Linked DNA regions of Homo sapiens. The protein of the gene in region 2 purifies or fractionates together with the protein of the main gene of each other region. This does not show direct contact. Each region holds a gene or a part of one and is shown on either strand. Other genes may lie near its edges.

What was found.
Region 1: the proteins of SLC71A2 (region 2) and RAI14 purify together in Homo sapiens (affinity purification with mass spectrometry; one large-scale study listed by BioGRID and IntAct). This does not show direct contact.
Region 3: the proteins of SLC71A2 (region 2) and MYL12B purify together in Homo sapiens (affinity purification with mass spectrometry; one large-scale study listed by BioGRID and IntAct). This does not show direct contact.
Region 4: the proteins of SLC71A2 (region 2) and DSG2 purify together in Homo sapiens (affinity purification with mass spectrometry; one large-scale study listed by BioGRID and IntAct). This does not show direct contact.
Region 5: the proteins of SLC71A2 (region 2) and MYO1D purify together in Homo sapiens (affinity purification with mass spectrometry; one large-scale study listed by BioGRID and IntAct). This does not show direct contact.
Region 6: the proteins of SLC71A2 (region 2) and DHRS7B purify together in Homo sapiens (affinity purification with mass spectrometry; one large-scale study listed by BioGRID and IntAct). This does not show direct contact.
Region 7: the proteins of SLC71A2 (region 2) and PPP1R12A purify together in Homo sapiens (affinity purification with mass spectrometry; one large-scale study listed by BioGRID and IntAct). This does not show direct contact.

The regions. Positions count from the first base shown.
Region 1 is NC_000005.10:34,662,828-34,666,327, reverse strand, and holds part of RAI14 (ankycorbin), read right to left. Parts: intron 1-3,500. UniProt on the Homo sapiens protein: Plays a role in actin regulation at the ectoplasmic specialization, a type of cell junction specific to testis. Important for establishment of sperm polarity and normal spermatid adhesion.
Region 2 is NC_000009.12:94,381,069-94,384,568, reverse strand, and holds part of SLC71A2 (hippocampus abundant transcript-like protein 1), read right to left. Parts: intron 1-3,500.
Region 3 is NC_000018.10:3,272,133-3,275,546, forward strand, and holds part of MYL12B (myosin regulatory light chain 12B), read left to right. Parts: intron 1-751; 5' UTR 752-766; coding exon 767-950; intron 951-3,414. UniProt on the Homo sapiens protein: Myosin regulatory subunit that plays an important role in regulation of both smooth muscle and nonmuscle cell contractile activity via its phosphorylation. Phosphorylation triggers actin polymerization in vascular smooth muscle.
Region 4 is NC_000018.10:31,539,677-31,543,176, reverse strand, and holds part of DSG2 (desmoglein-2 preproprotein), read right to left. Parts: intron 1,985-3,500; coding exon 1,863-1,984; intron 1,032-1,862; exon of another isoform or gene 856-1,031; intron 658-855; coding exon 325-657; intron 76-324; exon of another isoform or gene 1-75.
Region 5 is NC_000017.11:32,762,125-32,765,624, forward strand, and holds part of MYO1D (unconventional myosin-Id), read right to left. Parts: intron 2,958-3,500; coding exon 2,754-2,957; intron 1-2,753. UniProt on the Homo sapiens protein: Unconventional myosin that functions as actin-based motor protein with ATPase activity. Plays a role in endosomal protein trafficking, and especially in the transfer of cargo proteins from early to recycling endosomes.
Region 6 is NC_000017.11:21,175,464-21,178,963, reverse strand, and holds part of DHRS7B (dehydrogenase/reductase SDR family member 7B), read right to left. Parts: intron 732-3,500; coding exon 622-731; intron 1-621.
Region 7 is NC_000012.12:79,925,098-79,928,597, forward strand, and holds part of PPP1R12A (protein phosphatase 1 regulatory subunit 12A), read right to left. Parts: intron 1-3,500. UniProt on the Homo sapiens protein: Key regulator of protein phosphatase 1C (PPP1C). Mediates binding to myosin. As part of the PPP1C complex, involved in dephosphorylation of PLK1. Capable of inhibiting HIF1AN-dependent suppression of HIF1A activity.

The DNA.
Region 1 (3,500 bases), on a different chromosome or scaffold from region 2:
ACCTACTGTGAGACTAGGAGTACTGTCGGGGGGCCGGGACATCTGTGAGCCTAGGAGTACTGTCAGGGGTTGCCTGGGACACCTACTGTGAGCCTAGGAGTATTGTCAAGTGGGGCGCAGGACATCTCCTGTGAGACTACAAGAATTGTCAGGTGGGGCCTGGGACATCTCCATTCCTTCCTGTTAACAGCAAAACTGGGAAACTGCTGCCACCAAAAGCTGAAGACAGAACAGACCCAACTCCTTGGGGTGAGAAACTTAAGACTCATCCTTAGAATTCATCAGGTCTCTGTGAAATAGTCATATTACAAAACCACCTTTTCATTGCATATAAATTGCATTTTATTACATCCAATAGAAATAGATCCTAAAAATGGTCAATAGTATGTTGACTGGTTGACATAGCAACCGATGACTAGTTTTCAAATTGAGAGTATAAAACCCACAATTATTACTTTTCACTCATGTATGATAGGTTTTCGAACTGTGGGTGGCAGTGGGGTGGGGAATAGCGGCACATGATAGAAAAATAGAGCCCTTGTAATTGTATTCTCAAACTTTGAGAGGTGGTCATTGTGGGTTCTTAACCTGGGTATTCCAAGGAGGTTTATAAATGGCCTTAGGGCAAGGAGTTCCATGAAACTCATGAGACTGATAAAAATTATGAATTTATAGCATCATTGTACATACATCAGTTTCTCCAAGGAAGAATGGTCCAAAACCCCCATCAGATTTGCAAGTGTCCATCTATGCCTCACGAATATTTAAGAATCACTGCTGGATGGTTTTCTCTGGTTTGCAAATGGATTCCTCTTAGAGAAAAAAAAAAAAAAAGAAAAAAAAATGGAAAACACTTTACTCTGTGCTGCCCTAGTGCAAAAGGAGGCTTCTCTGGCCTTTTATTCTCCATCAGTTAACACTGCCTGTTTTCTGAGTGTCTATCACTTCAGCCAGCAAAAGGAACTGGACAGACTTAGTGAAAGTGAAAAGAGGTAGATGCTGCTTGTTAGTTTTAGAGTTATTATCTCTTTGAAAAGAACAGCTAAATTAAGCAAACTGATTGCAAAAACGTGGAACCAACCCAAATACCCATCAATCAATGAGTGGATAAAGAAACTGTGGTGTGTGTATATATATACATATATATATGTGTGTATATATATATATACACACACATATATATGTGTATATATATACACATACATATATACACATATATATACACATATATATACACATATATATACACATATATATACACATATATATACACATATATATACACATATATATACATATATATATACACATATATATATATATACACATATATATATATATATGATGGATACTACTTAGCCATAAAAAGGAGTGAACTAATAGCATTCACAGTGACCTGGATGAGATTGGAGATTATTATTCTAAGTGAAGTAACTCAGGAATGGAAAGCCAAACATCGTACATTCCTACCCATAAGTAGGAGCTAAGCTATGAGGATGCAAAGGCATAAGAATGACAAAATGGACTTTGGGGACTCAGGAGGAAAGGGTGGGAAGGGAGTGAGGGATAAAAGACTACAAATAGGATGCAGCGTATACTGCTCAGGTGATGGGTACACCAAAATCTCACAAATCACCACTAAAGAACTTACTCATGTAACCAAACACCCAGTTCCCCAATAACCCATGGAAATAAAAAATTTAATAAATAAATTAATTAAGCAAATTGAACTTATCTAGATCATAAGAAAACAGAATATCTTATCGATAACAATACCTAAAATGGATATGAAAAATTAAGTTGAGCTTTAAAAGGTAATATAATAAATAAGTGTAAGGGAAACTGGTTCCTTGATAATAAGCTTTGGTGTTCACTAAATGTCAATTTTTTTCTTTCCTTTTTTTTTTTTTTTTGAGACAGTGTCTCGCTGTCACCCAGGCTGGAGTGCAGTGGTGTGATCTTGGCTCACTGCAATATAAATATACTTTTTTTTTTTAAAGTAGATATGGGGTTTTGTGCCATGTTGCCCAGACTGGTCTTGAACTCCTGAGCTCAAGTGGTCTGCCCTCCTCAGCCTCTCAAAGGGCTTGGATTACAGGCAGCAGCCACTGTGCCTGGCCTAAATGTCAATTTAAGAAAATAAATAAATAAATAAGGAAAGAAAAAAAAAGAGCCCATGTATTTCCTTCCACTGTACAGTAAGCTTCTTGGACTACAACCACCTTTTCTCACAACTAGATTCTGCTTATTTAGAAGCAGGGATTAGCAAATCATGAAGAACTTCCCAAAGGTGTCCCCTTGCCCCGGTGTGACATATGGTCATGGAATTATACGGCAAGACTAATTTCCAGTGAATGCCATTCACTACAGAAGGGACTGGCCTAGATCGCAAGTAAGGTTAGATGAGGTGACACTGATCACAAAAACCCAGCTGGTGAATCAATCAAGACACAATGCACAAACTTCCGCAAAGAGTGGATAAGGAGGAAAAGTGTTTCTTTCACATCTTCTGAACTTCGACTTCGCACTTTGTTGCTGATTTCTGCCTTTTGATTATTGTTTAATTCTCCTCTAGACTAGGACAACTCTATATCTGATGACCGCCATGAGGGGCTTAATGACCTCTGAGGCAGGAGTAGTTGAGAGATGTTAATCTCCTACTGTGTGGCAGATACTCTACTGGACACATAGAATATAAAATTGAAGAACAAGGCATGCTTCCTTCAGTTAAACAGAAGAAGGTACTGCTTTGTTTTTAAACACATGGTTAAGTCAGTAAAGTTACTTTTTATTTGTATTTATTTATTTTTTTAGACAGGGTCTCACTCTGTTGCCCATGCTGGAGTGTAGTGGTAAGATTTTGGCTCACTGCAACCCTCGATCTCATGGGTTGAGGTGATCCTCCCACCTCAGCCTCCTGAGTAGCTGGGACTACAGGAATGCACCACCATGCCCAACTAATTTTTGTATTTTTTTAGAGACAAAGTTTCGCCATGTTTCCCAAGCTGGTCTCTTAACTCCTGGGCTTAAGTGATCTTCCTGCCTCAGCTTCTCAAAGTGCTAGAATTACAGGTGTGAACCACCATGCCTGGCCAAAAGTTACTTTTTAAAATACTGATTAGATTTGCTGATATCTCTCAGTGGGCCTGATGTCAAAGACGAGGCTAATTTTTTTGTTCATTGTAGATGGCTGGAGCTAGAAAATTGACATTTGATGAACAATTTTTATCTTTTGTTGAACCACCTGTACTTTTCAGCTCATGACTAACTACAAAGGGAAGAAATATCTTTAAACTGGGCATGGTGGCTCACACCTGTAATCCCAGCACTTTGGGAGGCCAAGGCAGGTGGATCACTTGAGGTCAGGAGTTCGAGACCAGCCTGGCCAGCCATGGCCAACATGAAACCCCATCTCTACTAAAAATACAAAAATCAGCCGGGCATGGTGGCATGTACCTGCAGTCCCAGCTACTCAGGAGGCTGAGGCAGGAGAATTGATT
Region 2 (3,500 bases):
CAGGAGTTTGAGACCACCCTGGGTAACATGACAAAACTGCAACTCTACAAAAAATACAAAAATTAGCTGGGCCTGCTCGTGCGCGCCTGTACTCTCAGCTACTTGGGAGGCTGAGGTGGGAGGATCGCCTGAGCCTGGGGAGGTCGAGGCTCCACTGAGCCGTGATCATGCCACTGCACTCCAGCCTGAGCAACAGAGAGAGAGACCATGTGTCCAAAAAAAAAAAAAAAAAGGAAAATTTGACACACGGCACACATGGACAAACCTTGAGGACATTATGCAAGATGAAATAAGTCAATCACAAAAAGATAAGGATGAATATGGTATGATTCCATATATATGAGGTATCTAAAGTAAGTCAAACACATAGAAACAAAGGAGAATGGTGGTTGTCAGGGAATGGGAGGATGGCAAAAAATGGAGTTGTTGTTTCATGGGTATAGAATTTGTTTTGAAAGAAGAAGTAGTTCTGGAAATTGGCTGCAGAACAATGTGAATATACTTACACTACTGAAGTCTACACTTAAGAATGGTTAAGATGGTAACTTCTTTGCTATGTGTATTTTACCACAATTAAACAATTTTTTAAAAATCAACCGTATTTCTATATGCTGGCAACAAACAATTGTGAATTTAAATTTTAAAAAATTACATTTATGTAATGATACCATTTACAATAACGTCAAGAAATATGAAACGGAATAATCTGACAAAAGATGGGAAAGACATGTCAACTGAAAACTACAAAACTCAGCTGAAAGAAATTACAGATCTAAAATAAATGGAGAGATACTACATTCATGCATCAGAAGACTTGATCAATTCTTTCCAAACAGATCTTCACGGCAAAAGAATACCAATAACAATCCCAAAAGGCTTTCTTGTGGAAATTGCCAGGCTAATTCTAAAATGCAAAGACCCAGAATCACTAAAACGACTTTAAAAAATAACAAGATTGGGGGACTGTTAGTTTTCAAGTCTTATGAACCTCCAGTAATCAAGACTGCAGGGTACTGATGTAAAGACAAATAGATCAAAGGAACAGAATAAAGAGTTCAGAGACTGACTAATATATGGACAATTGATTTTTGACAAAGATGCAAAAGTAGACCAGGCATGGTGGCTCACACCCATAATCCCAGCACTCTGGGAGGCCAAGATGGGTGGATAACGAGGTCAGGAGTTCGAGACCAGCCTGGCCAACATGGTAAAACCCTGTCTCTATTAAAAATACAAAAATTAGCCAGGTGTGGTGGCGTGCGCCTGTAATCCCAGCTACTCAGGAGGCTGAGGCAGGAGAATCGCTTGAACCTGGGAAGTGGAGGTTGCAGTGAGCCGAGATTGCGCCACTGCACTCTAGCATGGGCGATGGGACAAGACGCCATCTCAAAAAAAAAAAAAAAAAAAGATGTAAAAGCTATTCAATGAATAAAAACATATTTTTCAGCAAATGAACAACTGTTCATAAACAAATAATTTCCATCCTTATTTTGCACCATATAAAAATGTAATCAAAATTAAACACAAACCCAATTGTAAAATCTAAAACTATAAAGCTTCCATAAACATAGAAGGAAGGCCAAGCACAATGACTCACGCCTGTAATCCCAGACTTTGGGAGGCCGAGGCAGGTGGATCACGAGGTCAGGAGATTGAGACCATCCTGGCTAGCGCGGTGAAACCCCGCCTCTACTAAAACTGCAACTCTACTAAAAATACAAAAAATTAGCCAGGCGTGGTGGCGGATGCCTGTAGTCCCAGCTACTCGGGAGGCTGAGGCAGGAGAATCGCTGGAACCCGGGAGGCAGAGATTGCAGTGAGCTGGAGATTGCAGTGGGCAGAGATTGTGCCACTACACTCCAGCCTGGGCGACAAAGAAAGAGACTCCGTCTAAAAAAAAAAGAAAAAATAGAAGGAAATTCCTATGATTTGGGATTAGGCAACAATTTCTTAAATATGAAACCAAAACCCTGATCTATAAAAGAGCAAATTGATAAATTTCATCAAAATTTAAAATTCCTGTTCTTCAAGACACTGCTGAGAGAATGAAAAGATGGACCACGGCCTAGAGAGAATGTATTTGCAAATCATTTGACGAGGGACTTGCATCCCAAATATGTAACGAATTCTCAAAACTCAATTACAAGAAAACAACCAACCAACAACAACAACAAAAAATAGGCAAAAGACAAGAACAGACACTTTGCCAAAAGGGATATACAGAAGACATATAAGTTTAGGGAAGTTGGGCACATGGCTCACACCTGTAATCCCAGCACTTTGCGAGGCTGAGGCAGGTGGACGACTTGAATCCAGGAGTTCAAGACCAGTCTGGGCAACATAGTAAGACCCCATCTCTATAAAAAATTAAAAAATTAGCTGGGTATGGTGGCATATGCCTGTAGTCCCAGTTACTCGAGAGGCTGAGGTGGGAGAATTACCTGCGCCCAGGAGGTCAAGGCTGCAATGAGCCAAGATCACGCCACCGCACTCCAGCCTGGGCAACCAAAGTGAGACTCTGCCGGAGGAGGAAAAAAAAAAAAACTTATGGAAAGATACTGAATGCCACTAGCCATAGGGAAGCACAAATTAAAAGAACAATGAGACATCACTAAAGACCAATTGGAAGGGCTAAAATTGGCCAGGTGTTGGTAAGGATATGGATGAACTAGAATTATCATACAGTGCTAGCTGCAATGTACAACTGTACAATTACTTTTAAAATAATTAGTTTGGCAATTTATTTTATTTTATTATTTTTTTAAAGACGGAGTCTTACCATGTTGCCCAGGCTGGTCTCAAATCCCTGGGCTCAGGCAATCCTCCTGCCTCGGCCTCCCAAAGTGCTGGGATTACACGCATGAGCCACCATGCCCAGCCAACAGTTTCTTAAAAAGTTAAATACATCTACCATATGACCCAGCCATTTCACTCCTATTTACTTTTAAAAAAGTGTATTCTGTACAAAGATTGGCACACAGATGTTCACAGCAGCTTTATTTGTAATAGCCAAAAACTGGTGAGAAGCCGAAAGTCCATCAACAAGGGAATGTACAAATCGTGGTTCATCCACAAATGGACTACTACTCAGTAATTAAAAAGAATGAACTACCGATTTACATAACACTGATAAATCTCAAAATAATTTATGCTGAACTTTTTAAAAGCCAAAGAGGAGAATATGCTGTATTTATAAAATAACAAAAAAAAAAAAAAGCTAGAAAATTCAAACCAGCTGGGGGCAGTAGCTCACGCCTGTAATCCCAGCACTTTGGGAGGCCGAGGCGGGCGGATGGTCTGAGGTCGGGAGTTTGAGACCAGCCTGACCAACATGGAGAAACCCCGTCTCTACTAAAAATACAAAATTAGCCTGGCATGGTGGCGCATGCCTGTAATCCCAACTACTTGGGAGGCTGAGGCAGGAGAATCACTTGAACCCAGGAGGCGGAGATTGTGGTGAGCCGTTATCACGCCATTGCACTCCAGCCTGGGCAACAAGA
Region 3 (3,414 bases), on a different chromosome or scaffold from region 2:
AAGGGTGGGTTTGATATTTATAAAGATGAGACCTTTTTTGAACATGACTAGTCTTTTTACATATGTTATCTCAATTAGTTCTTTGCATTGAAGTAGATATCATGTTTTACTGATGAAAAATTGAGGCTCAGAGAGGTTATGTTATACTGGTAGTAAAATGGGAATAAGAGTACCTACCATAGGCAACTGTTGTGAGGATTAAATGGGGACAGTCTTTGTCAGAGTAAGAAATCAACTTTGGAGACTTTCTCTTTGAGGAAGCCCTATGCCTTCATAACAGTGCTTGGCCAGAGTAAGTACTCCATAGATGCTAGCTATTGTTAGATATTTTAAATTCTCACTTCATAAAAATTGATCCCCTGAAGTTTAGGACAAGGTACATCAATAATTTCTATTGTGTTTCTTTCTTTTTTAGAGATGGGAGTCTCACTATGTTGCCCAGGCAAGTCTCGAACTCCTAGTCTCAAGTGAGCCTCCCACCTTGGCCTCCCAAAGTGTTGGGATTATAGGCATGAGCCACTGGTGTCTGGCAAATTCTGTTCCTTAATGTTTCAAAACTGCTTTTTTTCCACTCAGTCATTTAATTGTCACATTGAAAATAAAGTTTAGGTGCATACTTATTCCTACCCAATTGAAGTAATAATTCCTTATTGATATTTTTACCTACAGACTTTAGGTATTATGTATTCTGTTTTTGCTTTGTTTTATACATTGTTTTGTTTTACGTTTTTGTGTTTTTTTTTTAATCCAGAATTAAACAACCACCATGTCGAGCAAAAAGGCAAAGACCAAGACCACCAAGAAGCGCCCTCAGCGTGCAACATCCAATGTGTTTGCCATGTTTGACCAGTCACAGATTCAGGAGTTCAAAGAGGCCTTCAACATGATTGATCAGAACAGAGATGGCTTCATCGACAAGGAAGATTTGCATGATATGCTTGCTTCTCTAGGTAGACTTTATATTCTTTATTTGTATTTTCCCTAAAATAATAATTTGTCTCTTTATGAATCTTTTTTTTGTGCGATGTACAAATATTTCTCTCCTTGTCTCAAAAGGCCTCTGGAGAGATTTCTGGGTGTGGGAGGTGCTATTTTGGGGCTTGGCCAGTCATATGGAGATAAGCCTACAAGGTTGGGGACCTGGCAGATGCTGTGCCCGGGTAGGCTAATGTTCCTGTTAGCTAAATTTTTTAGGTCTCTAGATGGAAAGCCAGGGCATGGCTAGGCAGCAAAATACCAGAGTTTCAAACAAGTGTAGCTAAATAATATACTTAATAAAGGTTGAGTACAGGTTATAAACAAGGAGTGACAGTAAGTGATGATGGTTATCTCTGGGAAGGAGGGGCAGTGCGACTGGAAAAGGGAACACAGTGAAGAAGACTTTCACAATATTTTGTATGATTTTTTTAATAACTAAAATGTAAAGATACAGGATTTAAAGCACACATAAACAGCCATTTGTATGTTGGTATATGGGTGTTAATATTCCTTGTATGATTTTGTTATTGTTTCTTAACATGCATCCTACATGTTCTGGCCAGAGTCAGCAGTTAATTTACAGTTGGGAGTCAAGGAACTGCAGGCAAAGGAGACCTTGATAGGCCAAAGCGGAGGGGGTGAGGCAGGCTGGGAGTGGGTCAGGGATGGCCTACAGTGAGACTTTGCGCTCTGTCCTCCTGCTTGGCTGACTGGCCAAAAAGGCAAAGAAAGAGGTGGGGGTTTTTTTTTTCTCTCTTTTAATGCCTACAAAATGATCAGCTAGCTTTTATTCTTCTAACTTTTGATTTTGATTATTTCTCCTAACACATTGAAAGTAAAGTTTAGGTGTGTACTTATTCCTATCCAACATATGATTTTGAAAACTTTTAAGCCTACAAAAAGTGGAAAGAACATTATAGTGAACACCTATACATCTTTAGCTATATTCACTGATTGTTAACATTTTGTAACTTTTCTTTATCTAGGGTGAGAGTAGAATCAAAGATTTTTATCTGATTTGTTGACTTGTAGTTAGATTATAACCTAGTGTTTCTCACATTCAGAATGTCTGAGTATGTTCTTGGGCAAGTCAGTACTGAAGAAGGCCTCTGAGGAAAATTGAGGAATGTAGCCATCTTCCAAAGATTGAACTCTCAAGTCTATACTCTGCTTATAATAGATGCTCAATAGATATTTGTTGAACGAACAAGTCATGGTAGAGTCAGAGGTTGTCTTTGAGACCTTCTGTTTTGCAGAAACCCATCCTTTTAAAGATACGTGTTAAAAGAACAATTTCAGCCTAATTAAATTTAATGGAGTTTAATTGAGCAATGAACAATTTGCGAATCAGGTAACCCCAGAATCACAGCAGATTCACAGAGACTCCAGTGCAGCCACGTGGTAGAAGAAGATTTATAGACAAAAAAAGGGAAATGACGTACAGGAATTGGAAGTGAGGTATGGAATGGCTTGATTGATTACAGCTCGGCATATGCCTTATTTGAACATGGTTTGAACACTCAGCAGTGTATGAATGGTTGAAGTATGGCTGCTGAGATTGGCCAAGGCTTAGCAGTTGTTACAGGCTCATACTCCTAAGTTAGGTTTTCAGTCTTGTCTGACTATTAAGCTAGGTTATAATTCATTCACAAGGACTCAACTGTAGAAGTACGGAGTCTTTCTCAGGCCATATTTAGTTTGCTTTAACATATGTATTTACCTTTTAGGGGAACCTTCATACATTATTGGTAGGAATGTAAATAAGTACAGCCACTGTGAAGGACATTATGGAGGTTCCTCAGAGAACTAAAAATAGGAGCTCTCCCATATGATCCAGCAATCCCACTGCTAGGTATATACCCCCAAAAAAGGAAATCAGTAGTATCATTGAAGAGGTATCTGCACTCCCATGTTTATTCCAGCACTATTCACAGCAGCCATGATTTGAAAACACCGTAAGTGTCCGTCACCAGATGAACGGATTTTAAAAATGTGGTACTTATGTACAATGGAATACTGTTCGACCATAAAAAATGAGATCCTGTCATTGCAGCAACATGGATGGAATGGAAGACATTATGTTAAGTGAAATAAGCCAGGCACAGAAAGACAAACTTCACATGTTCTCACACACTTGTGGGAGCTAAAAGTTAAAATAATTGAACTCATGGAGATGGAAAGTAGAAGGATGGTTATCAGAGACTGGGAAGGGCAGGGAGAAGAGTGGGAACTGTTAATAGATACAAAAGTATAGATAGAATGAATAAGATCTAGTATTGGATAGAATAACAAGGTGACTGCAGTCAGCAGTAATTTGTTGTACATTTTAAAATAACTCAGTATAGTTGGAATGTTGGTAACACAAAGAAATGATAAATGCTTGAAGGGATGGCTATGCCATTTACCTTGATGTGATTATTTTGCATTATATGCCTG
Region 4 (3,500 bases), on a different chromosome or scaffold from region 2:
GCTCTCTCAGTGTGCATCTTGATATGAAGACATCATGAAGGAAAGCAGAGCTGACTGACTGGCAAAAACATAACTGTAAGTGAGAAATATGCCTGTGTGAGAACTAAGATCATGGTTACTGCAGCATAATTTAGCTAACACCGACTGATTCTGTGGGTCCCATTTCTCTTTCCTTATTGCCTATAAGTATTCCCTGAAAAAAGAAAAAAAAAAAAAACCCAAAGTCTCATTTGGATCCAAGGCAATGATTACCCTAATAATATCACATTCACATACAAATGTTCCCCCCACCCCCCACCACCAATACATAAAACTCATCCTTACATCAGTGAAATAATTTCTTAAGAATTCTTCGTTCAGTGCAACAGCAGCTGCCTGAGCTCCGGCCATGTCTCTGGAAGCCCCTGTGGCCCTTGCGGTCTTCGTGGTTTCAGTGGTCATGATAGCGCCTGTGGCCCCTGTAAACTGGGTAGCTCTACCAGAAAGCAGGCTTCTGTGTTCTTCCCACCTTCCATCCATCTCGGACATCTCATGTTGCCCTTTGACAATGGAAGCAGAGCTACTTCCTTTCATCGTGGCTTCCTTGGCCATACCTCCTACTCCATTTCTTCCTACTAGACTGCCCCCTTGATCCACTGGCAGAAATGATGGCACCACCTGTGAGAGCAAACACAGCTGAGAACTGAGTCAGGAGGATGGAGGGAATCCTTCATCCTTGGTAGAAGGATCTGAGTCAAGTGGGCATAGGAAGGTATAAGCTATTTCCACTGAGGCCAGTTAGAAAAAGTATTTTGAGTTGAATAACTTATGTAAGTCTTATGAAGATCTCCTTTCTTCTCTCTTCTTGTTTTATAGGTGGATAGAACCCAAAGAGAAAACAAAGCCCAAACAGTCTCAGCTCCTTTACTCTATGCGACCAATGGCATTTCAACCTCCCTCTACAGTTTGATACCTTCTTCTATAGTTACAGAATTCTTAACTTTGTTTTGACCTGGATCCATGGCCACCCAAAATAAAGACTATATTTCTAAGCCTCTGATGCCACTAGGTATAGCCACCTGACTAAACTGTGGTCAATGTGAATGAAGCAGAAATGGTGTACACAAGTTCCGGGAAGTGTGCTTAAAGAGGGTTCTTCACTTTTCTCCCATGTGCTGGTTAGAATGTGGGGACGGCAGCTAGGTAGCTAGAACTAGGACATGAGGACAGTGTGGGAATGGAACTCAACCATGGAAGAAAAACAAGGAAGAGGGAACTGGGGACCATGCTGCGGATGAATCATCATGTTGATCTTGGAATGCCCATTTTAGGATTAAGCCACTGTTATTCTGAGTTCTCTGCCACCTGATGCTAAATCCTATCCTATTAGAAATGGTGCTCATAACAGATGGTGGTGAGAGGTCCAGGGTGAAGGTGCAACAGAGAGACAAAGGGATATGGCTATGATGTAGTTGGGAAATGGGGTTTTGCAACATTTTACAAGTGTCATGGGGGTTGTGGGCTTACCTCTGCAAACCCTATGTATTGAGGGAAATGGAAATGAAGCAGTTCCTGGTTATGAAAACTGCCCATTTAATGTTAGGACAAAAGACTTAGATTCCTACACACTCTTGCTCTTCCTGAACCTTGCTCTACATTCTCTACAACATGGGAAGTGTCAAAACAGAGTAAAACTATCTCAATTCTGCCCCAGCAACAAACACAAAATATGCTGTCATTTGAACTCTTTGCTTAACAAAGGCACATGAGTGAAATCCATAGTGATCACTTTACTCACTCAACCAAACATGTAAGAAACACTTCCCTAGGCCCCTTTAAAACCCAAGAAGAAGACAAGTCATATTGACATCTGATCCACTGACCTTGTCTTCAGGTGGTGCTCCTTCATTATTCCAAGGATGCAGCATCTCTATGGTGCCAGGTATGGGGGTAAAGCCTTTGGCGCCCTTTCCGCAATGGCACATCAGCAGTAAAAGTGGTACCACTGTACAGACACAAAATTGAACACAGATAAGGTTAACCTTGATATATTTCTAAATTTATATTGCACAATTTTGGAATTTGCATGTCCCTTCCTGGACTTGTCTTCACTTATTTACAGCTCTATTTTTCTTTTCTTCACCCTGATCCAACCTTACCAAGCTTGTTTTGGGTGAATTACTCCAAAACCCGAAGGCAGGATGAGGGAGTCTTACAGATTCAAGGCCTTGTTCATCAAAAAGAGGCTGTCTGTGGCTGCTGAGTGGAATACCAAGACTAGGTTCAGATAGTATCCAAATCATCAAAACCAGCTTAAAGATTAATTTTTTTAAAACTATGGTCCAATTAAAAAAAAATCACTGTTGCAAAAATATATGTACTATTGAAAACAGTAATTAGAAATAATAAAGTGAAACATATAACAATTTCAGAGCCCTCTTCTTAGATTTTATTTTACCCCTAGGAGGAAGCAAAGACCAAGGCTGACCCCTTGATCAATGTAGTAAAGAATTAAACACACCTGCATGCCCATCTGCCACTCCCATTTGGCAGCTTCCAATGATGAACTGGCTACTGCCTAGATTCGTTTTTATGTCAAACAGTCAACAGCACATTAACTACAGCTACTACGATTAATAAGAAGACTGAAATCAGCCAGTGGCAATTCAACAATTTTAACAAACATTCATCAAGTGTCTATTATGTGCCAAGTACCACATTAGGCTCCAGGGAATCTGAGATGAGAAAGCAGTGCAAGGAATCCCTGAGCAAAAGATACAGTCCCAGCTCCAGTACCTACCTACAAACTTGGTAAGCTGAGACAAGTCATTTACCGTTATGTATCTGTATATGTAGCCATAGCATGGAGATGATGGTATAAAAGTACACTGCAGACTGTTGAGTGCTGTGCTTTCAATTGCACATCTACCAATGGCTCTAATACAGCAGTCCCCAACCTTTTTGACACCAGGGACTGGTTTCATGGAAGACAGTTTTTCCACAGGGAAGTTAGGGGTAGGGGGGTTGGTTTTGGGATGACTCAAGTGCATTACATTTATTGTGTACTTTATTTCTATTATTATTACATTGTAATATATAATGAAATAATTATACAACTCACCATAATGTAGAATCAGTGGGAGCCCTGAACTTATTTTTCTGCAACTAGATGGTCCCATCTGGGGGTGATGGGAGACAGTGACAGGTCATCAGGCATTAGATTCTCATAAGGAGCACGCAACCTGGATCTCTTGGCATGAGTAGTTCACGATAGAGTTTGAGCTCCTATAAGAATCGAATGCCAGCACTGGTCTAACAGGAGGTAGAGCTCAGGTGGTAACACGAGTGATGGGGAGTGGCTGTAAATACAGATGAAGCTTCACTCACTCTTCCACCACTCACCTCCTGCTGTGCGGCCTGGTTCCTAACAGGCCATGGACAGGTGCTGGTCTGTAGCCTGGGGGTTGGGGACCCCTTGTCTAACAGACCTCTCCTCTGTCACTGCACTAGCCTAGGCTGCC
Region 5 (3,500 bases), on a different chromosome or scaffold from region 2:
AGACCAGAAGGATGAGTAAGAGGTAGCCAAGCAAGAGAGGAGAGAAGAGCAGTCCAAGCAGAGGGAACAGATGTGCACAGGCCCTGTGACTGGAAGGAGAAAGGGATCAGGATAATCTGTGAGGACTGAGAGAAGACTAATGTGCTGGGCTGAAGAAAGGGGGGCTGGGTATAGTATAAAATGAGGTGGGAGAGGTGGGCTGGAGCCAGACCATGTTAAAGTATTATTCTTGCTTCTCTCATTCTCCACATAATAGGTCCTATGGATTTTATTTTCTCAACACAGTCCATTTCAAATCATCCTCCTCTCCCCATTTGTACTTTCACTTTTCTGATTCAAGCTGCCCTCATCTCTTTCCTGGATTAACAAAATATCCCCTTAATTGACCTCTTTGCTTCCATTCTTACTCTAGCCCCCATAACATTCTCCATACTAAGGCCAGAGTGATCATTTTAAAAATGCAAACTTGCCAGGTGCAGTGGCTCATGCCTGTAATCCCAACACTCTGGGAAGCTGAGGTGGGCAGATCACCTGAGGTCAGGAGTTTGAGACCAGCCTGGCCAACATGATGAGACCCCATCTCTACTAAAAATACAAAAATTAGCCAGGCATGGTGGCGGGTGCCTGTAATCCTAGCTACTCAGGAGGCTGAGGCAGGAGAATTGCTTGAACCCGGGAGGTGGAGGTTGCAGTGAGCTGAGATCATACCATTGCACTCCAGCCTGGGTGACAGAGAGACACCGTCTCAAAAAAAAAAGAAAAAAAAAAAAAGACAAAAAAACGGCCGGGTGCGGTGGCTCACACCTAATCCCAGCACTTTGGGAGGCCGAGGAGGGTGGATCACAAGGTCAGGAGATGGAGACCATCCTGGCTAACATGGTGAAACCCTGTCTCTACTAAAAATATAAAAAATTAGCTGGGCGTGGTGGCGGTCGCCTGTAGTTCCAGCTACTTGGGAGGCTGAGGCAGGAGAATGGCATGAACCCGGAAGGCAGAGCTTGCAGTGAGCTGAGATTGTGCCACTGCACTCCAGCTTGGGCAACAAAGCGAGACTCCATCTCAAAAAAAAAAAAAGGCAAACTTGATGTCATTGCCCCTCCTTAAAGTCCTCCCTATTGCTCTCCATTGCACTTAGGAAAAATTCAAATTCCCCCAAAACTAAAAACCAAGCCTAAGACTTACAAGAGTAAAAAATGAAATAGACAGTAAACTAATCAACCAGCAAAACAACAACAACGAAAGTTAGACGTGAGAAAATACAACGCTTGCCACACAGATAACAAAGGGTTAAAGTTTATGATATGCTAAGAACACTTAGAAATTGACAATAAAAAGATAACAGCTCCAAAGAAAAATGCACAAAAGATATACCCAGGCAATTCTTAGAATATGTTAAAATACTCTACAAAAATATGATAAGATGCTCAAATATACTAGTAATGAAATAAAAGTAACAATAAAATATTACCATGCAGCCATAAAATCAGTAAATTTAAAGTTTAAAATAAATATATGGCAGGTGCGGTGGCTCACGCCTGTAATCCCAGCACTTTGGGAGGCCAAGGCAGGTAGATCGCTTGAGGTCAGGAGTCCGAGACCAGCCTGGTCAACATGGTGAAACCTTGTCTCTACTAAAAATACAAAAATTAGCTGGGCGTGGTGGCACACTCCTGTAATCCCAGCTACTTGGGAGGCTGAGACAGGAGAATCACTTGAACCCGGGAGGTGGAGGTTGCAGTGAGCCAAGATTGTGCCACTGCACTCCAGCCTGGATGGCAGAGCAAGACTCCGTCTCAAAAAATAAAAATAAAATAAGTATACCCTTTGACCTGGCAAGCTCACTCCTGGGAATCCATCCAGCTGAAACAAAAGCACTAGTATATAAGCATAGATGTATAAAGACGTGCAGCATTGTTTGCAGTTGCAAAAAAGGGAAGTAAAGTGGGTGACTTAAGAGTAAGGTGGTTAAATAAATTGTGGTACTATCACTGCAGGCTTAGTACACAGCCCTGGAGGACATTATGCTAAGTGAAATAAGCCAGGCACAAAAAGACAAATATTGTGTGATCTCACCTATATGCAATCTGAAAAAGTCAAACTCATAGAAGCAGAGAATAGAATGGTGATTACCAGAGGCTAGAGGAGCGGGGTGGATGGAGAAAGTGTGAGACGTTAGTCAAAGGGTAAAGTTTCAGTTAGACAGGAAGAATAATTTGTGGTGATCCACTGCAAAGCGTGGTGACTGTTAATAATAATACTAATAATATTGTTTCAAATTGCTAAGAGTGGATTTTAAATGTTCTCACCACAAATAAATGGTAAGTAGGTGAGGTAAGAGGTATGCTAATTAGTCTGATCTGATCATTCCATAATGTGTACATGTCCTGAAATATCCCACTGTACCCATAAACATATACAATTATTGTCAATTAAAAATAAATAAAACTTAAAAAAAATGGATCAGAGCTCAGTCAGTTGACTCTGGCGAAGCATTATTGAGTGAGAGAAGCAGCACGTGAAGCCCTCATGAGCGCCACCCCCAGTCAGCTTCCACTCTTCTCAGAACCTTTTTTGGCAGTGATGCTTACTTACATCTGGGAGTTTTACCGAGGCTTGTATGGCCAGAAAGTATCATTATGGTTTCTAAAAGCCTTAACCCTCTTTCAAGAATGTCTGAATACATGCTCACAGGATTTCACTCAATTTGCAACTGCGATCAACACCAGGTGACATAGGGTCAGTTACACTCTCACCTTGGCAAAGGCGTCTCTGCCGTAGCTGGCCTCTTGTTCTGTGTGCTGCTTGTCAATGATGTCACGGCCTGTGGCCACAGTCCGGTAAAGAAGGGCTTTCTCAACCATATCTGTCTTAGTAGAGAGCAATTCTGCTATGATAGATACTACTTTGCCATTCTCAATAAGAGGCGTGTCACCATCTACTACAAATTTTAAATTTCCCTGTATCAAAAGTGAAAAAAATAACACATTATGAAACATTATGTCAAGGATATATTTGCCAATATAAAATACAATTCAGGTGACCTTGTTTGTACCTATTTTCCTAAATACATTATACATCTCAACATATAAAAACAGTGTTTCATCTACTTTTTCCCTTTCTCCGGACACTCATCTATCTTTTTGCTTTCAGTGTATGTTTTTGATAGATAAAAGTTTTACATTTTTATGTAATCGAATCTATGAATCTTTTGCCTTAGGGTCTCTCTTTCTTTGGTGTCATACTTAGACCATTCCTACTCCAAAGGGTTTATGAGCATTTGATGCTTTCCTCTAATGCTTTTATAGTTTTTGTTTTCCTTAAACTTTTTATTTTATTTATTTATTTATTTTTGAGACAGAGTCTCGCTCTGTCGCCCAGGCTGGAGTGCAAGTGGTGCGATCTTGGCTCACTGCAAGCTCTGCCTCCTGGGTTCACGCCATTCTCCTGCCTCAGCCTCCTGAAGAGCTGGGACTACAGGTGCCTGACACCACGCCCAGCTA
Region 6 (3,500 bases), on a different chromosome or scaffold from region 2:
AAATAAAACAAGGGCTGTACTGGTGGCTCACGCCTGTAATCCCAGCACTTTGGGAGGCTGAGGCGGGCAGATCATCTGAGATCAGGAGTCCAGCCTGGTCAATATGGTGAAACCACGTCTCTACAAAAAATACAAAAATCAGCTGAGTGTGGTGGTGTGCACCTGTAATCCCAGCTACTCAGGAGGCTGAGGCGGAAGAATCGCTTGAACCCAGGGGGCAGAGATTGCAGTGAACCGAGATTGGGCCATTGCACTCCAGCCTGGGTGACAGAGCGAGACTCCGTGTCCCAAAAAAAAAAAAAAAAACACCTTTTAAAGTTATCACCATCCCCCACTCCCACCCAGTAAGTAGAGCTTAGCCAGGTAAAAGGAAAGGGAGAAAAGAGAACTTTCTCAACTCACAGTGCTAGCCAGTAGGGGCATCAGGATGTAAACCACTGGACAGTTCTCTCTCCCTATGCAGTGGGCCCGGTTCGCTATGGAGACCTGCTGCCTTCCCTGGGACAGTGTGACGCATGGATGTCCTACAGCTCAGCAGTCCAGGAGTGGGCCACTATCTCCTCAGTGCCTACAGAAGACGGCCTGCACTCCTTCCCCATGGAAAGCACGCCCCTGGCTCACCTTGGTGGCATGAGAAGCGGTGAGTTCTCTGATGAGCTCTTCTAGGGCCCCACCATTCCGGCCACAGAGCACCAGTTTAGCACCCGCAGCATAGAAGACTTTTGCACATTCTAAGGGAAGAGAAAAGAGCCTTGACAGCCATTCTTCCTCAGTGCCGTTCAGTTTAAATTCACCCAGCGTTGCTGTTTGCTGCTTCACACCCTTCACAGGTCTGTGTTGGCCCCTGCTGTGTGGCCCAGCATGAAGCTGGGAGCTAGGGCCCAATGCCGGGCTCACGCCCAGTGCTACAAACATCCACAGGGCAAAGAGAAAGGAGGGCCGAGGTGGACAGATGTGTTAAGTATCATGCTCAGAACACCCCATGATGTTCCTGTTCACCTGGATCAGCTGTGAGCATCACCTATCTTCACAGCTGAGGGAGCTCACCAAGGTCACTCAGGCAGGGTCTTGTCCTGATTGGCAAGGTCAATGAGGGCCAGCTATTATGGTGCTGTGCCCTGCCAAGACTGTGTGGTGGCACTACCCAGGCACAGCTCTCCTGGAAATACTCACACAGTCCTGTAGAAAAGCTGGGGCAGGGGACCGAGGCCCTTCCCAGATCTGATGGGCTGTTTCCCAGGGAGTGCTTGAGGCAGAGGGAGCAGAGTGCCTGAAGGGCCACAGGCAGATAGAGATGGGACAGAAGGTGGAGGGTCTAACAACCTCACTGGCTGGGGAGGGGTCAAGTCAGTGCACGCAAGCACCTGCCACACGCAGGACTATTAAGGGTGCCTGCCTTTGAAAAGGCTCAGTCCTGCTGGGCGGGAGGGAGTGGGGACACTGGAGGAAAGCAGGCTCCACCAAGCCCACCACACTATTCCAGGTAACAATCGATGCGGACTTCAACTACGACCACAGCAGGGACAGTCCAAAGCTAGTCAGACACGTGCTCTATATTCTTTTGGTGGCAAGAAACAGAAACTAAACTCACACTGGGGCAAAGCAAAAAGAGAATTTGCCAGAGGGATTGTGGGGAAGTTCAAGAATGAAGAGGAGAGCCGGATGGCCGAAACCTAGGAGGGACCCAAGTGCTGGCTGCCCGGGTGCTCTCACGTGCCTGGGTGCTCTCACACGCGGGCAGGCCCCAGAGCTCACATGCACAGTTTTGTCTTGTCTCTTCCCAGCTCTGATCAAATCCCAGGGAAGGCCGTGATCAGCCTTGAGTGGGGGGCCCAGCAAGGGTCACAGGTAATTCTCCTGTGGCTAAGCAGGAGGGCCTGACGAGAAACCCCCTGGACGCAGCAGGGTAAACCATGAGAACTGGGGGTGGAGGACTACTCTATGAGGAGTCAGAAAGGAAACGGAGTGATGGGAGGAGAGGAGGCAGAGGGTGGCGTCGTTGCTTCTTGCTTACCCTCCCCTGCAACATATCCTATGTAAATGTTCAGTGCCCCAAAAATGTACATACAGCTTATGAAAAGCAGGACAGCCCAGCAGCCAAGAGAGTGGACTTGAGCTAGACTTCCAACTCCAGTAAGTTAGAACCTCTTTGTTTCTGACTTTCCTCTTATTTAGGATGCTTTTTATCTATCAAACACGGTAGTAAGAGACTACCTACCTTAACTCATTCAGTCCCTCGGGGTGTGACCGTGAGATTGAATGAGTTAAGGTAGGTAATCTCTTACCACAGTGTTTGATAAACAGCACTACAGCGGTGTCAATTGTCATTTTTGTATTTCTATTTATTAAAAATATTTTTTTTAGAGACAGGGTCTTACTCTGTTGCTCAGGCTGGAGTGCAGTGGCACAATTATAGTTCACTGTAGCCTCGAACTCCTGGGTTCCAGTGATCCTTCCACCTCAGCCTGCAGAGTAGGTGGGACCACAGATACTCGCCACCATGGCTGGCTAATTTTTGTATTTTTGTAGAGATGGAGATTTTGCCATGTTGCCCAGGCTGGTGTCAAATTCCTGGGCTCAAGCGATCTTCCTGCCATGACTTCCCAAAATGCTGAGATTACAGGCATGAGCCACTGTGCCTGGCCATATTTCTGAACTACTTTGTAAAAATGTTCTGGCCGGGCATAGTGGCTCATGCCTGTAATCTCAGCATTATGGGAAGCTGAGGCAGAAGGATCGCTTGAGCCCAGAAGTTTGAGACCAGCCTGGGAAACATAGGAATCTTGTCTCTACAAAAAATAAAAAATTAGCCAGGTGTGGTGGCGCATGCCTGTAGTCCCAGCTACTCAGGAGGCTAAGGTGGGAGGATCCCTTGAGCCTGGGAAGTCAAGTGAGCCATGATCACACCACTGTACTCCAGCCTGGGTGACAGAGCAAGACCTGTCTCAAAAAATAAAAATATGTGTAAATAATAATGTTCTAAAAACTGATGATGAAAACTGAAACATAGTTTTTTACTTTTTTTTTTTTTTTTTTTGATACAGGGTCTCGCTCTGCACCCAGGCTAGAATGCAGTAGTGTCATCATGGCTCTCTGCAGCCTCAACCTCCCAGGCTCAAGCGAGCCTCCACCTCAGGCTTCCAAGTTGCCGGGACTACAGGCACATGCCACCATGCTTGGCTAACTTTTGTAGAGATGAGGTTTCGCCATGTTGCCCAGGCTGCTCTAGAACTCCTGAACTCAAGCGATCCTCCTGCCTGGGCCTCCAAAAGTGCTGGGATTACAGGCATGAGCCACTGCACCTGGCCACATGCTGGTTTAAAGAGGCACTCCTGTCCTCACCTGAGGCATAGTCTCCCTTAAGTGCTCACCAGCAGATCTGCACAGGATACCTTGGCCCCTGGCTGACCCTGACCTGACACCAGTGAGCCACTGACTTGGTTCCAGACCGAATCTTAGAGGCCCAGGTGATTAGGTGGCACCCTAGCTCCTGGTTCATG
Region 7 (3,500 bases), on a different chromosome or scaffold from region 2:
ATGTTCTGGAGCTGAAACTCCAACAGAAAAGCTCTAGAAGTGTTCCATGCAAGAATATAAATATTCAAATAAGTTTATAACCATCTAAAACAATTTTGAAGGCTAATAAAATATATATAATTTGGGATGTTTATTACAAGTAAAGGTTGAGTGCATACGTGTACGTGTGTGTGTGTGTGTGTGTAACAGTCCATGAAAATATACTTTCCCACATGGTTATTAATCTTTAAGAGGGTGCCAAGTGACATCTCACAAAATGTATTCTCCTCTGCACTATGCAGTATTCAAGAAAATGACATGAGCTTTGTACAATCTTATGATTTTATTGTTAGAGGTCATGTTAAACTAAGAAAATAGTAATTTCAGCTCAAATGTGAGTTAAATCATCAAGTTAAAGTAAAGCTTTTTATTAAGTGAAGCTCTCTCTGCAGAATATCTCACTTAATATACATAACATTTAAATAGACTACTAAAAAAGTGACAGCTGAGGAATGCTTTCACTTCTTTCCATGGTTTCTACTGAATGTCATTTCAGAAATGCCTATACAACACATGACAATGTGGAATGTCTCCTCCCATGAAAGAGCATTTGAGTTGAGCAGCAAGCACACTTAGGGCAGTAACACAGAACTCAAGCGTGTCTTTTTATGGTTAGCCAGCATAACAATGCAAAGATAAACAACCAAAACACTAATAAGGTCAGAAAATACTGACATAGAGGGAGCCATAGTAAAAATGTTATTTGGAAAAAAAAAGTATCAGTAAAATAACAGAAAATATGCATTATTTCTAATATTACCATGCTAGAGATTTCTTTTCTTTTTCTTTCTTTTCTTTTCTCTTTATTGGTAGAGACACCGTCTCCCTATATTGCCCAGGCTGGTCTTGAACTTCTGGGATCAAGTCTCTTGCCTTGGCTTCTCAAAGTGCTGGGATTACAGGTGTGAGCCACTGCATCCAGCCTAGAGATTACTTTTCTAAATGAACACTCAAGGATTTGTTTAAAGAATTTTTAAACTAAGTTACATAAACTGAAGCGTCTATTGATAATCAGTAATAGATCTCATTTCAAAAATAAATCTAACATCCCAATAATTTTTTTCTTTAAGACAGAATCTCGCTCTGTCGCCCAGGCTGGAGTGAAGAGGCATGATCTCAGTTCACTCCAACCTCTGCCTCTTGGGTTCAGGCGATTCTCGTGCCTCAGCCTCCTGAGTAGCTGGGATTACAGGCATGCGCCACCATGCCTGGCTAATTTTTATTTTGTATTTTTAGTAGAGATGGGGTTTTGCCATGTTGGCCAGGTTGATCTCAAATTCCTGAGCTCAGGTGATCCGCCTGCCTAGGCCTCCCAAAGTGCTAGGACTACAGGCGTGAGCCACCATACCCAGCCACCTAATAAATGTTTTGATTGTAATAATGGCTACCTTTACATTGTAAGTATTATAAAAGTAAGTGGTTGATATAAGCTTTTTTATTAGGACATTTTAAAAGTTTGTCAGTGTGTTACACTTACCCAATTATTTAATATTCTATGAATTCTGCTCTTCAAAATATTAGTTTACATTGTGTCCAATTTTTTTTAATCATTAAATATTTATTGTGTACCTACTAAAACAAAATGCCGATACAAAAGGAGATTTAAAGAAAAAAAGAATCAAAGTCCCTACCTTAAGGGTATATAAGGGACTTCTTCCCCCCCACCCCCAGTATCCATGGTATGAAGTTTCCTACAATTTGTCTCTAAAAAGAATCAAATATGTACATGTACGTATGTATAAAAAATTTACTGTAAATGATTAAAAAAAACTAAAACAGGCTAAGTGCAGTGGCTCACGCCTGTAATCCCAGCACTTTGGGAGGCTGAGGTGGGAGGATCACTTGGGCCCAGAAGTTTGAGACTAGCTTGGGCAACACGGGGAGACTCTGTCAAAGAAAAAAAAAAATTAGCTGGAAGTGGTGGCACATGCCTGTATTCCCAGCTGATCGGGAGGCTGAGGTGGGAGGATCACTTGAGCCCAGGAAGGCTACAGTGAACTATGTTCATGCCACTGCACTCCAGCCATGGTGACAGAGTCTGTCACCCTGTCTCAAAACACACATACACACACCACACCCACACACACACCCAACAACTGAAACGATATAAATTGCTATTAGGGTAAAGAAAAATAAAGGTAGTTAAAAATTAAATTCTATGTCCTGAAAAAAGGAGTGTTTCTTGTTGCTGCTGATATATTCTGCACATAATGGTAAGTCAAAAATAATCTTGGCACTTCCTAAAATTTAGGACAATTTCGAATTCTGAGATTAATTTAGATACAGTACTACTGCACTTCAATTACCATAGAAAGGTCTTAAAAGTATGGGCTAGCTAAAACAAATGTGGATGAAGAAAAAAATTATATGTGTGTTTCACTTGATTTTCAGCTAATTTACAGAGAAACCTCCAATTACTAAACACCACCATAATGATGAAAAGATTTAAGAATATTTTCTTCTTCAGACTTCAAAGAAGATACCTGGCATAGGGTAAAGTTTGAGTTTCGGCATCAAACAGACCTGCATAAGAATTCCAGCTCTGCCATTTATTTTCTTGTTAACTTTGAGCAAGTGAAAAAGCATGTTGTGAAAATTAAACTATTGTTTGGAAAAGCACTGCTCCTCAATAAAACACTGATTAAGTCATGGCTACTACATATCTGACTCCAACTGAGAATAAACTTATAATTGTTGGAGTTCTTCAACCTTTCAAAGAGGTATACCAAAATGCCAATACCTCATCATCTTCTCAACCTTATTGTGGAGCCCCACAAACTTTCAAAAGAAGGGTGGAGTAAAAGATGGCAATTTTTTGCAGGCAGAGGCAATGAAAATAGCAACTTCATATAGTGTCAAGAAGTAACATGTTATGGTAGTAACAAAACAACGTTTTATGCCTCCCCCTATTAAAAGGTTTTTAAATAGTTTTCTTTTAAAAATCATCTAATAAGATTTTTAAAACACTTTTCTTATGTGAACTGTAATTTTTAAATGTGGTAATAACAAATGGATGATGAAAAACACTTCCTCTATTCCATCCAGTGTTTCTACCTGGCTATAGAAAATGCTCAGTCACAGCTTGCAATCATACTGTAGCTGAGGCACATGAAAGATGGTCTTGGTTATGACACCTCAAAGTCAGACCACAAAAGTGTTGCCAGGAAGCACAGAGGCAGCAACTACAGAAAAAGCATTAGAACAGCAGCAGTGTGGGCACTGGTGCCCTACCAGCACACCCCATATATGGCTAGGGTTGCCCACTTATTTGTAGGAAGTGAGGGGCCAGTTTGGGGTTGGGAGGGTTTTATTTGTTTGTTTAGGTAGGTTTTTAAAAATGGATTTAGGATGATTTCAATAAAAACTTTTGAAAGGCATGAGCATAAAGTGTTACAGCTTTTCTAAAAAGAAAACTATGCAGAGAAATATTTTACACTGCACATTCTTTTAGACACAAATTT